4 linked regions of the Homo sapiens genome follow. The protein of the gene in region 1 interacts with the protein of each later gene in a pairwise test. Each region holds a gene or a part of one and is shown in the gene's direction. Other genes may lie near its edges.

What was found.
Region 2: the proteins of SELE (region 1) and WFS1 interact in binary tests that used the Homo sapiens proteins (3 or more experiments, as listed by UniProt).
Region 3: the proteins of SELE (region 1) and SNCA interact in a two-hybrid assay, tested with the Homo sapiens proteins (one large-scale study listed by BioGRID).
Region 4: the proteins of SELE (region 1) and TRIM54 interact in a two-hybrid assay, tested with the Homo sapiens proteins (one large-scale study listed by BioGRID and IntAct).

The regions. Positions count from the first base shown.
Region 1 is NC_000001.11:169,727,573-169,731,141, reverse strand, and holds part of SELE (E-selectin precursor), read left to right. Parts: intron 1-524; coding exon 525-710; intron 711-1,468; coding exon 1,469-1,654; intron 1,655-1,767; coding exon 1,768-1,956; intron 1,957-2,895; coding exon 2,896-3,084; intron 3,085-3,214; coding exon 3,215-3,403; intron 3,404-3,569. UniProt on the Homo sapiens protein: Cell-surface glycoprotein having a role in immunoadhesion. Mediates in the adhesion of blood neutrophils in cytokine-activated endothelium through interaction with SELPLG/PSGL1. May have a role in capillary morphogenesis.
Region 2 is NC_000004.12:6,276,347-6,279,915, forward strand, and holds part of WFS1 (wolframin), read left to right. Parts: intron 1-1,104; 5' UTR 1,105-1,109; coding exon 1,110-1,341; intron 1,342-3,569. UniProt on the Homo sapiens protein: Participates in the regulation of cellular Ca(2+) homeostasis, at least partly, by modulating the filling state of the endoplasmic reticulum Ca(2+) store.
Region 3 is NC_000004.12:89,827,151-89,830,719, reverse strand, and holds part of SNCA (alpha-synuclein), read left to right. Parts: intron 1-2,535; coding exon 2,536-2,577; intron 2,578-3,569. UniProt on the Homo sapiens protein: Neuronal protein that plays several roles in synaptic activity such as regulation of synaptic vesicle trafficking and subsequent neurotransmitter release.
Region 4 is NC_000002.12:27,299,363-27,302,931, forward strand, and holds part of TRIM54 (tripartite motif-containing protein 54), read left to right. Parts: coding exon 1-54; intron 55-167; coding exon of another isoform or gene 168-293; intron 294-3,569. UniProt on the Homo sapiens protein: May bind and stabilize microtubules during myotubes formation.

The DNA.
Region 1 (3,569 bases):
TTGATTTCAACGAATTCAAGTTTAAATTTGAGTAGCCACACAGATAGTGGCTACTATAGTAGACAGTGCAGCATTAGGGTTTTAAAATTTGTAATGTATTCTAGTACTTAAATTTGAAATATAGCTTTGTGAATGGTTCTCATCCTGGTTGGAAGCTTACTGTAGTATTTTTAGCAGTTGTGAGAAAAGTAACAAGAAATTTGTTGTGGTACCTAAGTTTGCTGTGTTTGTTCATATAATTTGAACAGTTTTGAGGTAAACACAATTACACTACTCTCCCCATATCACTCAATATTTCTTTTTTATGGTTGTCATCACTGCTTTTTTGTTGTTGTTGTTATGGATCAGCATTTTCTTGAATAAAAGAAAAGGGGTAGAATTACAGTCAATTTTACAAATTCCATTAGAAATTTTATAAATTTTTAAACTAAAAAAAAAAAAAACCAAACTGTAGTTCTAGTTTCCAGTGTTCTTATCTGTTAAAGGTGAGAGATGAGCAGAACTGATTTGGGTTTCTTTTTCAGTTGTGAACTGTACAGCCCTGGAATCCCCTGAGCATGGAAGCCTGGTTTGCAGTCACCCACTGGGAAACTTCAGCTACAATTCTTCCTGCTCTATCAGCTGTGATAGGGGTTACCTGCCAAGCAGCATGGAGACCATGCAGTGTATGTCCTCTGGAGAATGGAGTGCTCCTATTCCAGCCTGCAATGGTAAATCCCTCTGAGAATGCACAGAACGTTCTGTAACTCATCCCTCATTGCTTCTGTTTTTTGATTCAACTTACATTTTCAAAACTTCAGGGAAAGTTTTTTTTTTGTTTTTGTTTTTAATACAATTTGTTCTCTCAGCCAATGTATATTGCCAACCCAGTACCTGCTTGGGTTGAGAGAGGTTTTTTTATTCTATGCTTGAAATGGGTGTTTCTGAGGCTCTGGTGATTTGTAAGGGAGACCATAAAACAATAAAGCTCTAGAAATCTCAATGGATTTCTCATCTTGTTTCCCTGTTTAACTTTTCCAAGCCATGGGACTAACTTAAGACCATGATAGTCAAGCAGTCTTAGTATCTCTTTTTCTCTCTTAATTTTATCTTTCTGAACCAGAGGCCAAAAAAAGAAAAATCAGTTCTTCAGGCTCTGATGGGCTAAAATAAATGAATAGCCTACGTATGTCAGTACTAGTCATAACTCCTAATCTGGAATCTATTTTTTTTAAATTTTTACCTCACGTAAATGATAACATAGATTAGAGACCACTCAGCATAGGCAAAGTGGAAATCAGAAAAGATAGAATATCCATGAAAAAGAATAAAAGCTTTTATTCTGGCTGTGCATGTCCCTAAGAATTGACATAGGACTTTGGGATCTACCCTTTGAAGGCAGCTTCCTCACTCTGTTAGGCACCCAGCTCAATAGGAAGTGAAAAGATCATTCTTCTGTAAAATTCATGGTGCTCTTTAAAATCCTCAGTGGTTGAGTGTGATGCTGTGACAAATCCAGCCAATGGGTTCGTGGAATGTTTCCAAAACCCTGGAAGCTTCCCATGGAACACAACCTGTACATTTGACTGTGAAGAAGGATTTGAACTAATGGGAGCCCAGAGCCTTCAGTGTACCTCATCTGGGAATTGGGACAACGAGAAGCCAACGTGTAAAGGTAGAGTTGTTCCACATGGAGACTTACTGTGAACATTCTTTCTCTCAACCCATACTGGAAATGGGCAAGCTAATTCTAGGCCGTGCTAATATCAATGCGTATATTTGTTACAGCTGTGACATGCAGGGCCGTCCGCCAGCCTCAGAATGGCTCTGTGAGGTGCAGCCATTCCCCTGCTGGAGAGTTCACCTTCAAATCATCCTGCAACTTCACCTGTGAGGAAGGCTTCATGTTGCAGGGACCAGCCCAGGTTGAATGCACCACTCAAGGGCAGTGGACACAGCAAATCCCAGTTTGTGAAGGTAAGCTTGAGATCCTTCGATTTATACTTTCTTAAAGAACAACCATCTTCAAACTTGGACAGTGAAAAAAAAAACCAATACCCACTTTAACTATAGAAATCAGATTTGATGAGCAACCCTCGTATCTTTGAGATTCATTTAAAAGAACTAATGTTTGGCCAGGGAAAGGATCATATGTGTTAAGAATGAATTCTTTGCTGTTTTTTTTTAACTGTGATGTGCTGATAAAACTTTGTAGACATTAGCATGGAATAGACAGAATTCTTAATCTAAAGGAATCATATTAGAAAATTCGGAAAGCAGAATAATGAGAACATGATTTGAATGTAAAACTCTCATCACACCTGTCTTCTGAAATGGCTCATAATTAGCAGTGATGAGACTGTTTCAAGCATGGTGTCAGCTACAGAGATAGTATTGATGCATATATAAGCAGTAAATTTTAATTCACTTTAAAGTGAGAGCAAGGATATTGAAAACAAGCAGTTTTTACTATCAGGCACTGGCCTTGTCCTAGCCAAAGCCAGCACAGAATGATTTCCAGTAGCAAAACATAACACAAAAACCAAACTGCAAAACAGACAAATTTTATAGGGGTGCTTTCTTTTCTTTCTTTTTGGCACCATCTATAAACATCCATGACCCATATGTTGTCCTCAGACTGCGTGAAATCTTTCCTTGGACCATAATTTATTTTGTGTGTTAGAAGAACAGTGCTCAGGAACTAATGTTCTGATTAATTAGTCTTTTAATTAGTGCCATGATCAGTGAGGGGGCTGAAATTCAAAGAAAACACAGCCATCTTCCCATTTGTCCAGGGAATTATAAAGAATCTTCAGTTCTCCAAGTGTTGCTTGAATGAACTGGGTTCACTCAACAAACGCCAAGTACTCTCTAGTTCCACTGCAATATTTTCTGACCATCATTTTGATGTCTCAGCTTTCCAGTGCACAGCCTTGTCCAACCCCGAGCGAGGCTACATGAATTGTCTTCCTAGTGCTTCTGGCAGTTTCCGTTATGGGTCCAGCTGTGAGTTCTCCTGTGAGCAGGGTTTTGTGTTGAAGGGATCCAAAAGGCTCCAATGTGGCCCCACAGGGGAGTGGGACAACGAGAAGCCCACATGTGAAGGTACAGTCTTTGTTTTTATTTTATTTTAAGATAAAAAGAACTATTGAAGAGCTTGGGAACTTGGTTACCTTGGGAAACGTATTGCTGGAGATGCAAACAAACTTCTAAAGTGCTCTCTCGTGTGTTCCAGCTGTGAGATGCGATGCTGTCCACCAGCCCCCGAAGGGTTTGGTGAGGTGTGCTCATTCCCCTATTGGAGAATTCACCTACAAGTCCTCTTGTGCCTTCAGCTGTGAGGAGGGATTTGAATTACATGGATCAACTCAACTTGAGTGCACATCTCAGGGACAATGGACAGAAGAGGTTCCTTCCTGCCAAGGTAGAATTGAGTGCAGACTTTTTTAGGGTACAGGTCAAATACTTCATAAAGTTTCTGAACCTAGATTGCCCCAAAGGGGTTTGGTCCTAATTTCCTACATGCTGAAAACTAAGTAGCGCTTACACTTTACATTCATTGTTGACTTTTAAGCAAGTTTTGGAAGTTT
Region 2 (3,569 bases), on another chromosome or scaffold:
CTAAGCAGCATGTGAGGGCCTCTGTTGAATAAAATAAAGCCCTTGCTCCGGCGTGACACGGGTCACGGGATCTCTGCTCACTCTAGTCTCTTCTGATGCCCCCACCGCACTGTTTGCCTTAGTTTGCTTTTTACTCTCTGTGTTGGTTTCTGGGGCATCAGTCCTCTGACTTCGGTGCTGTGGCTTGGGCCTGGGGTGGGGGCTGTGGAGCGGCAGATCTGGGTATGAATCCCAGCTCCACCCATTTGGCTCCCTCTCTTCTCTCCCCTGCCCTCTTCTCCCCTCCCCAGCTCCCTTCCCCTCTCATATTTACTTAACTTTACTCAGTACCAGCGTATTAGTTTTCTAGGGCTTCCGTAAGAAACTACTGGAAACTTGGTGGCTTAAAACAACAGAGGTTTGTTCTCTGATGGTTCTGGAGGCAGAAGTCTGAAGTCAAGGTGTGGGCAGGGTGGGTCCCTCCTGGAGGCTCTGAGGGAGGCTCAGTTCCTCGCCTCTGTCCAGCTTCTGGCAGTGGCCAGTGGTCCTCCTGCTCCTTGGCCACTGTCACCCGTCTCCGCATGGCTCTGTTACACTTCTCTTCCTATAGGCCATCAGCTCTTGGAGCCAGGGCTTCCCTACTCCAGGCTGATCTCATTTCAAGATCCTTAAATACATCTTCAAAGACCTGTTTTTCCAAATAAGGGCACATTCACAGACATTGGTGGGCACATGATGTGGGGCCCAATTCAGCCCCCTGCAGCCAGGCTCCACATGGGTGGGCTCTGGGTGTTGCTATCATCATCCCCGTTTCTTGGATGAGGGAAGGCCAGGGTTGTGTGGCTCATGCCCAGTGAGGCAGGGACTCCAGGCCTCGGCATGTGCAGGTCTGAGATTGTAAGTGCCATGCCATCTGTAGAGTCACGTGGGTGAGTGTCCTCCCATGGTTTCCTCCCTGGAAGCGGTGCTGGCCCATGGGGACTGTACTGAGTGTCAGCGAGATCCTGTATGGAGTGTCTGGCAGCTCCCACCTGCCTCCCTCTGCTTTTCTGTCTCCAGCAGACACTAAGTGCCAGAGCGGGCTCTGCCGGTGCTGGATGTGCCTGACCTTGACTTTTCTTCCAGGCAGGATGGACTCCAACACTGCTCCGCTGGGCCCCTCCTGCCCACAGCCCCCGCCAGCACCGCAGCCCCAGGCGCGTTCCCGACTCAATGCCACAGCCTCGTTGGAGCAGGAGAGGAGCGAAAGGCCCCGAGCACCCGGACCCCAGGCTGGCCCTGGCCCTGGTGTTAGAGACGCAGCGGCCCCCGCTGAACCCCAGGCCCAGCATACCAGGAGCCGGGAAAGAGCAGACGGCACCGGTAAGGGAGCAGGCTGGGAAGCCCAGGCTGGGGATGTTCAGGGATAGCTGGGTGGGAACGGGGTTCAGCCACCCCTGGAGGGTCCCCCCGCCAGGTCCTCTGCAGTTCAGCATTGTGCAGCTCCCATGCTGTGCACAGGCGTCCATCCAGTGGGGCTACCCACCTCCTCAGAGCCTTGCACCTGTCACCTTTGTGGCACCCACTCGAGGTGGTGCTGGTGCCCCCACTCCTCTGCAGTCCTTCTCTTCCCAGGGCCTCTGCAGCACTTCACAGCTTCCATTTGCAACAGCGTCCAAACATGTGGAGTAAATTCACGGGCCCTCTGTAACCAACTAGGGTGGCAGGCCAGAGGTGACAGCCACACTCTCGGGAGTGAGGCCACATGCGGGCGAAGCCCTTGGTGCTGAGTTTCCCCTCTCCCTGAGGGAGACTTGTGAGGGACGGGCGTCCTTCACCTCCATCCTGAGGCGGGATGCTGGGGCCCTGGGTGTTCACAGGCAGAGCTGACTGAGGCCCTTGGTCTTCACAGGCCGAGCTGACTGAGGCCCTGGGTGTTCAAAGCAGAGCTGAGGCCCTTGGTGTTCACAGGCAGAGCTGACAGGCTTGTTGGTTCCTGGGTGGTGATGTGAGGGTGGTGGGTGTGAGCCAGGGGAGTCCGGCCCCTGGGCACCTTCTCCAGCTGACTCAGGCCTCGGTCAGCCTTCACTTTTGCTAGAGAGGCCGCTGCCAGGGAGGCTCAGTCCCAGCTCATCACTGCCCCTCCTGCCCATGCAGAAGCCCCAGACCCATGGTGAGTGCCTGCTGTGTACACCAGCCTTTTCCATGTGCCTGCAGGACTCCTCATGGCAGTCCTGAGAGGGGAAACTGAGACACCGAGTCTAGGTGACTTGCCCAAGAGACCCAGCGGGTGAGAGACGAGGTGCTCGAGTGGTCCAGGTTTCCTTCTTGTCCCAGTCACCCCACTGGCAGGGCCGTGGGGCCTCCCTGCTGTGGTCGCAGCGCGCTGAGGCTCCCATGTACCACTTATGCTGGGCGTGCCCTTGGAAACTCACTGCAGCCCTGGGCCCTGTTTGTCTTTGCATCTCCTTAAAAGATCACTGTGCTCCTCTGCTTTGTTTTGGAGGCCTCTGGGCGGATGAGGGCCTGACCCCGGGATTTGGGCCCAGCCTCACGGCTTCAGGGGAACAGATACCAGGGCTCGGAAGCTTGGTTTCAATCTGGGTAATGAGAACAGCCCGCAAAGGACAGAGTCCAAGACTGTGTGTTTCAGATAAGAAGAGTCAGGAAGCAGCTGTGGTTTGTTTGGCTTCGGTCTCCAATGTGGGGGTGGTGAAGAGCAAGCCCTGGGCGCCGCCTGACAGCCCAGTCCCCACCACTGGGCCTGCAGCTGGGGGCAGTGGGCATCCCGTCTCCCAGTCACTGGTCACTGATGTGGCCAAAGCAGGCCTGGCCCTGCATGCCCAGTGGCCGCAGGGAGGGCAGGGCCCAGGGTCCCTGCCAGTAGCAGCTGCTGCGAGAATCTGTTATTTAGCTCCCCCATCCAGCCAACATAGGTGGGTGAGCATCAGTTGAAATACCAATAGGTAACAACAAGGGTAGCTATTTAACTGACACTTCCCCGAGCTAGGCATCTTTTTAGGGCATTAGCCCACTTGCCTCTTTAACAGCCCTGGGAGGCAGGCTCTGCTGCTGCCCTGTTTTTCAGATGGGAAACCGAGGGATAGAGGGCTTAAGTAGATGACCCAGCGTCCCGTGGTTGGTGAAGGGTGGAGGGGAGATTTAAACATACCGTGGAGCCTGTGCTCACTATGGGCCTCAGGTCATCTGCGCCCAGGGATCCCCATGTCCCAGGCTCAGAGAAGTGCACAGAGCAGGTTGGCCTGTCCCTAGATCAGTGCCTGGCCAGGCCCTGGTGACAGGAGTGAAGGCTCAGTCCTGCCCTCCGGGAGCCCTGAGCAATATGGGAGACAGGAGTGAACAAGGAACTACATTCTGGGGCTCATGTAGCGCGGGGGACAACCCACATTGCAGTCCCCTAGGGGCACCCCAGGAGGGCCTGGTCACTCTTCAGGGCATCAGGAAGACTGCCTGGAGGAGGCATCGTCGGAGCCCCATCTGAGCTGCTCCTTGGCCTGTACACTTGGGAAACAGGAGAAGAGCAGCCTTGGGGTTGCCCTTCTCTGGTTGCCTCCCTGAGGAACTGACCCCCTTTTCAGCCCTTCATTCAG
Region 3 (3,569 bases), on another chromosome or scaffold:
CAGCCTCCCAAAGCACTGGGATTCCAAGCAAGAGCCACTGTGTTGGGGCCCTTGGAAACAGATATGCTGAAATCTTTTCTTGTGGATCTACACCCAGAAGAGGGATTGCTGGGTCATATGCTACTCTATTTTTAATTTTTCTTTTATTTTTAGTGAATATGTAATAATTGTATATAATTGTGGGATCCAGAATTATATTTCCATACATGTATACAATGTGTGATAATCAAATTAGGGTAATTAACATATCCATTACCTGAAACATTTATCATTCCTTTGTGGTGGGAACAGTAAAAATTAAAAATTCTCTCTTCTAGATTTTTGAACATATGCAATAAACTATTGTTAAGTATATCACCCTACAGTACTACAGAATGCTAGAACTCATTCCTCATATTTGGCTCCAATTTCATATTCTTTAACCAACCTCTCCATATCCTCCCCTCCCTCTTACCGTTGTCAGCCTCTAATAATCATAATTCTACTCTCTACTTCTATCTCATTGTCTTTGATTTAGAATATGTTTCATAATTTAACCAAAGGTCAAATTCTTAGGTACTGCTAAGGCAAAGAACAAAGATCGCATTCCAGCTGTTAGACATTTCTTACTACTAGTCATTTTTAAGACAACATGGGGTGCAGGTGGTGAGGATGAGAGATAGAGATTGAAACATATTCTCTTAAATATCAGCTGTTCTCACTCTGCATAGTTCCAGCACAAACAAATTCCAGGTACTATGGTTAGTTAAATAACACCAGCCACTAACAACACAATTCAAATTTCTGTTACCACAGTATACCGAAAGTCATTGCATAAAGTACAAACTTTGCTGCTAACTCTTCAGCCTTCAAATCATTACATAAATAACAGAAACCCATTATAATCAGTGACAAAACCACAGCACTTCTTTCAAAGCTTTTTGGAGATTGGTTGCTTCACATCTGTTATGCAGTTCATACAGACAGCAATGCCCGGACTTGTGTGGCCACATTGTCTCCCAGTGGTGAGCCCATGTGATGTTTCACGAAAATGCGCAATCAAAAGAGGAAACTGGCCAGCAAAGATGAAAGAGTAGCAAACAAAGGAAGTGAAACATTCTGGAAGTAAAATTTGAATCAAACATAAGTTGATGTATACAGGAAGTAGCTACCCTGAGGATGTTGTCACTGCTGCAATTCAGGAGACTCTAAATATGCAGTCAGAGGAACGTAGTGAGGTGAAGGTATCCGTATAATGGGGAAAGAGGTTGTGATAAAGAGTGAAGGTGTCCCAGAGGAAGTGTTGCTGAAAAATACACCTTATGTTAAATACACTGTCAGTATATCATGACATTAAAGTGCAAATGATAACATTTTGTAAACTGATCCAAACTTAAAAAGGAGTATGATAATTCTGTAAAACATAAAAATCATGCCGATTCCATAAATTATACAGTGTGAATTACACTGAAAAATCCAACATTAGAGAGGATATGAATACAATTTTTTACAAGCATAATTTTAATAATACACATAATAATTATTTGTATTCAAGTTTAGTAATGTTCAAGGTTTGGAAGAAATTCTGATCCTGTGTAGAGACCCTAGTTTGAATGTGCTTATAGCCTATTATTACATGTGTAATGTTACATAAATTACTTAACTCGGATTTTTAATTTCATCAGCTATTTAAAATGGGCATAATATAACTATATTAAATGGCTGTTATGAAGATTAAATAAGATGATATGTAAAATGTGTTTTTTGTTTGTTTGTTTGTTTGTCTGTTTGTTTTTTTGAGACAGAGTCTTGCTCTGTTACCCAGGCTGGAGTGCAGTGGCACAATCTTGGCTCACTGCAAGTTCTGCCTCCCGAGTTCATGCCATTCTCCTGCCTCAGCCCCTCCCAAGTAGCTGGGACTACAGGCACCCGCCACCACGCCTGGCTAATTTTTTGTATTTTTGGTAGAGATGGGGTTTCACCATATTAGCCAGGATGGTCTCGATCTCCTGACCTCGTGATCTGCCCACCTCGGCCTCCCAAATTGCTGGGATTACAGGCATGAGCCACTGCGCCCAGCCTAAAATGTTTTTTTTACATAATGGGTGTTCAGCACATGTTAAAGCCTTCTCTCCATCCTTCTTCCCTTTTGTTTCATGGGTTGACTGATCTGTCTCTAGTGCTGTACTTTTAAAGCTTCTACAGTTCTGAATTCAAAATTATCTTCTCACTGGGCCCCGGTGTTATCTCATTCTTTTTTCTCCTCTGTAAGTTGACATGTGATGTGGGAACAAAGGGGATAAAGTCATTATTTTGTGCTAAAATCGTAATTGGAGAGGACCTCCTGTTAGCTGGGCTTTCTTCTATTTATTGTGGTGGTTACTGGAGTTCCTTCTTCTAGTTTTAGGATATATATATATATTTTTTTCTTTCCCTGAAGATATAATAATATATATACTTCTGAAGATTGAGATTTTTAAATTAGTTGTATTGAAAACTAGCTAATCAGCAATTTAAGGCTAGCTTGAGACTTATGTCTTGAATTTGTTTTTGTAGGCTCCAAAACCAAGGAGGGAGTGGTGCATGGTGTGGCAACAGGTAAGCTCCATTGTGCTTATATCCAAAGATGATATTTAAAGTATCTAGTGATTAGTGTGGCCCAGTATTCAAGATTCCTATGAAATTGTAAAACAATCACTGAGCATTCTAAGAACATATCAGTCTTATTGAAACTGAATTCTTTATAAAGTATTTTTAAATAGGTAAATATTGATTATAAATAAAAAATATACTTGCCAAGAATAATGAGGGCTTTGAATTGATAAGCTATGTTTAATTTATAGTAAGTGGGCATTTAAATATTCTGACCAAAAATGTATTGACAAACTGCTGACAAAAATAAAATGTGAATATTGCCATAATTTTAAAAAAAGTAAAATTTCTGTTGATTACAGTAAAATATTTTGACCTTAAATTATGTTGATTACAATATTCCTTTGATAATTCAGAGTGCATTTCAGGAAACACCCTTGGACAGTCAGTAAAATGTTTATTGTATTTATCTTTGTATTGTTATGGTATAGCTATTTGTACAAATATTATTGTGCAATTATTACATTTCTGATTATATTATTCATTTGGCCTAAATTTACCGAGAATTTGAACAAGTCAATTAGGTTTACAATCAAGAAATATCAAAAATGATGAAAAGGATGATAATCATCATCAGATGTTGAGGAAGATGAGGATGAGAGTGCCAGAAATAGAGAAATCAAAGGAGAACCAAAATTTAACAAATTAAAAGCCCACAGACTTGCTGTAATTAAGTTTTCTGTTGTAAGTACTCCACGTTTCCTGGCAGATGTGGTGAAGCAAAAGATATAATCAGAAATATAATTTATATAATCGGAAAGCATTAAACACAATAGTGCCTATACAAATAAAATGTTCCTATCACTGACTTCTAAAATGGAAATGAGGACAATGATATGGGAATCTTAATACAGTGTTGTGGATATGACTAAAAACACAGGAGTCAGATCTTCTTGGTTCAACTTCCTGCTTACTCCTTACCAGCTGTGTGTTTTTTG
Region 4 (3,569 bases), on another chromosome or scaffold:
GCCCACAAGGACTGTGAGGTGGCCCCACTGCCCACCATTTACAAACGCCAGAAGGTATCAAACAGGGGAGGGAGTAGATATGTGAGAGATGGGGGCTTAGGACAGGGTCTCAGTGTCAGCCTCTTACTCCACTTATCTTTTGTTTACTTATTTCTTTATTTATTTAGAAACAGGATCTCACTCTGTTGCCCAGGCTGGAGTGCAGTGGCACAAACACAACTTACTGCAGCCTTGATCTCCCGAGCTCAAGTGATCCTCCCATCTTAGCCTCGCAGAACACTAAGATTATAGATGTGAGCCACCGCACTCAGCCCTATCTATCTATCTATCTATCTATCTATCTATCTATCTATCATATTTTGAGATGGAGTCTCGCTCTGTCGCCCAGGCTGGAGTGCAGTGGTGCAGTCTTGGCTCACAGCAACCTCAGCCTCCCGGGTTCAAGCTGTTCTTATGCCTCAGCCTTCCAAGTACCTGGGATTACAGGCATGTGCCACCACACCCAGCTTTTTTGTTTTTTGGTTTTTTTTTGACTCCTGGCCTCATGTGATCCGTCCACCTTGGCCTCCCAGAGTGCTGGAATTACAGGTGTGAGCCACTGCGCCCAGCTCCATTTATTTATTTTTTAAGAGATGTGGGGATCTCTGTCGCGCAGGCTGGAATGCACTGGTATGATTGTGATTCACTGCAGCAGCCTTGAACTCCTGGGCTCAAGTGATCCCTACCACCTCAATCTCCCAAGTAGCTGGAACTACAGGCATGTGCCACCATGACCAGCTAATTATTTTATTTTATTTATTTATTTATTTGTTTATTTATTTATTTTGAGATGGAGTTTTGCTCTTGTTGCCCAGGCTGGAGTGCAATGGCACGATCTCGGCTCACTGTAACCTCTGCCTCGCAGGTTCAAGCAATTCTCCTGCCTCAGCCTCCAGAGTAGCTGGGATTATAGGCGCCTACCACCATGTCCAGCTAATTTTTTGTATTTTTAGTAGAGACGGGGCTTCACCATGTTGGCCAGGCTGGTCTGGAACTCCTGACCTCAGGTGATCCACCCACCTTGGCCTCCCAAATGCTGGGATTACAGGCGTGAGCCCCTGCGCCCGAACCTAATTTTTTATTTTTACATAGAGACAGGGTCTCAGGCAGGGCACAGTGACTCACACTTGTAATCCTTTGGGAGGATACTACTAATAATAATATTTATTAGTAGTAGTAGTACTAATAATAATATTTATTAGTAGTAGTAGTACTAATAATACTTTAGAAGAGCGAGGCAGGGGGATTGTTTGAGTCCAGGAATTTGAGACCAGCCTGAGCTGTGTAACATAGTGAGACCCTTGTCTCTACAAAAAATTAGCTGGGCATGGTGGCATGCCTGTAGTCCCAGCTACTCGGGAGGCTGAGGTGGGAGGATCACTTGAGCCCGGGAGGTTGAGGCTGCAGTGAGCCATGATTGCACCACGGCACTCCAGCCTGGGTGATAGAGTGAGACCTTGTCTCAAAAACAAACATACAATATTAAAAAGAGACAAGATCTCACTGTGTTGCCCAGGCTTGTTTTGAATTCCTGGGCTCAAGCCATCCTCCTGCCTCTGTTAGAGGAAAGAGGTCTTGACACAGACCCCAAGACAGGGTTATTGGATCTCGCGCAAGAAAGAATTCAGGGCTAGTCCATAGAGTAAAGTGAAAGCAAGTTTATTAGGAAAGTAAAGGAATAAGACAATGGCCACTCCATAGACAGAGCAGCCCCTAGGGCTGCTGGTTGCCCTCTTTTTTTTTTTTTTTTTTTTTTAGATGGAGTTTCGCTCTTGTCGCCCAGGCTGGAATGCAATGGCGCGATCTCAGCTCACTACAACCTCCGCCTCCCAGATTCAAGCGATTCTCCTGCCACAGCCTCCCAAGTATCTGGGATTACAGGCATCCGCCACCATGACTGGCTAATTTTTGTATTTTTAATAGAGACAGGGTTTCACCATGTTGGCCAGGCTGGTCTCAAACTCCTGAACTCAGGTGATCCACTCTCCTTGGCCTCCCAAAGTGCTGGGATTATAGGTGTGAGCTACCGGGTCCAGCCTGGTTGCCCATTTTTGTGGTTATTTCTTGATGATATGCTAAACAAGAGGTAGATTATTCATGCCTTCCCTTTTTAGAACATATACGGTCACTTGCTGACATTGCCATGGCATTAGTAAACTGTCATGGAGCTAATGGGAGTGTAGCAGTGAGGACCACCAGAGGTCGCTCTCATTGGCGTCTTGGTTTTGGTGGGTTTTGGCCGGCTTCCTTACTGCAACCTGTTTTATCAGCAAGGTCTGTATGACCTGTATCTTGTGCCGACCTCCTATCTCATCCTATGACTTAGAATGCCTTAACCATCTGGGAATGCAGCCCAGTAGGTCTCAGCCTCATTTTACCCAGCCCCTATTCAAGATGGAGTTGCTCTGGTTCAAACGCCCCTGACACCTCAGCCTCCCAAAGCGTTACTCCACTTAGTTTTAAAGTCAAGCAGGCCGGGCGGTGGCTCACACCTGCAATCATAGCACTTTAAGAGGCCGAGGCGGGCGGATCACCTGCGATCAGGAGTTCGAGACCAGCCTGACCAATATAATGAAACCCTGTCTCTACTAAAAATACAAAAATTAGCCAGGTGTGGTGGCATGTGCCTGTAATCCCAGCTACTTGGGAGGCTGAGACAGGAGAATCGCTTGAACCCGGGAGGCGGAGGTTGCAGTGAGCTGAGATTGCGCTATTGCATTCCAGCCTGGGCAACAAGAGCAAAACTCCATCCAAAAATAAATAAATAGGCCAGGCGCGGTGGCTCACGCCTGTAATCCCAGTACTTTGGGAGGCCAAAGTGGGTGGATCACGAGGTCAGGAGATCGGGACCATCCTGGCTAACACGGTGAAACCCCATTTCTACTAAAAATACAAAAAACTTAGCCGGGCGTGGTGGCAGGCGCCTGTAGTCCCAGCTACTCGGGAGGCTGAGGCAGAATTGTTTACCTGGGAGGCAGAGCTTGCAGTGAGCCAAGATCGGGCCGCTGCACTCCAGCCTGGGCGACAGAGCGAGACTCCGTCTAAAAATAATAATAATAATAATACCTAAAATAAAATAAGTAAATAAAAATAAAATCAAGCAGATTAAGCCAGGCGTGGTGGCTCATGCCTGTAATCCCAGCACTTTGGGAGGCCAAGGTGAACGGATCACTTAAGGTCAGGAGTTCCAAACCAGCCTGGCCAACATGGTGAAACCCTTTCTCTACTAAAAATACAAAATTAGCTGGGCATGGTGGCAGTCGCCTGTAATCCCAGCTACTCGGGAGGCTGAGGCAGGAGAATCACTTGAACTCCAGAGGCGGAGGTTACAGTGAGCTGAGATTGCGCCATTGCACTCCAGCCTGGGCAAAAAGAGTGAAACTCTGTCTCGAAAATAAAATAAAAGTCAAGCAGATTGGAGTCAAAGTCCTAGCTCTGTGCTTGACTTGGTGTGTCACCTAGGTATGTTACTGGACCTTTGTGGCCCTCACTTTCCTCATGTGTAAAATTAGGGTGAAAATGCCTACTTG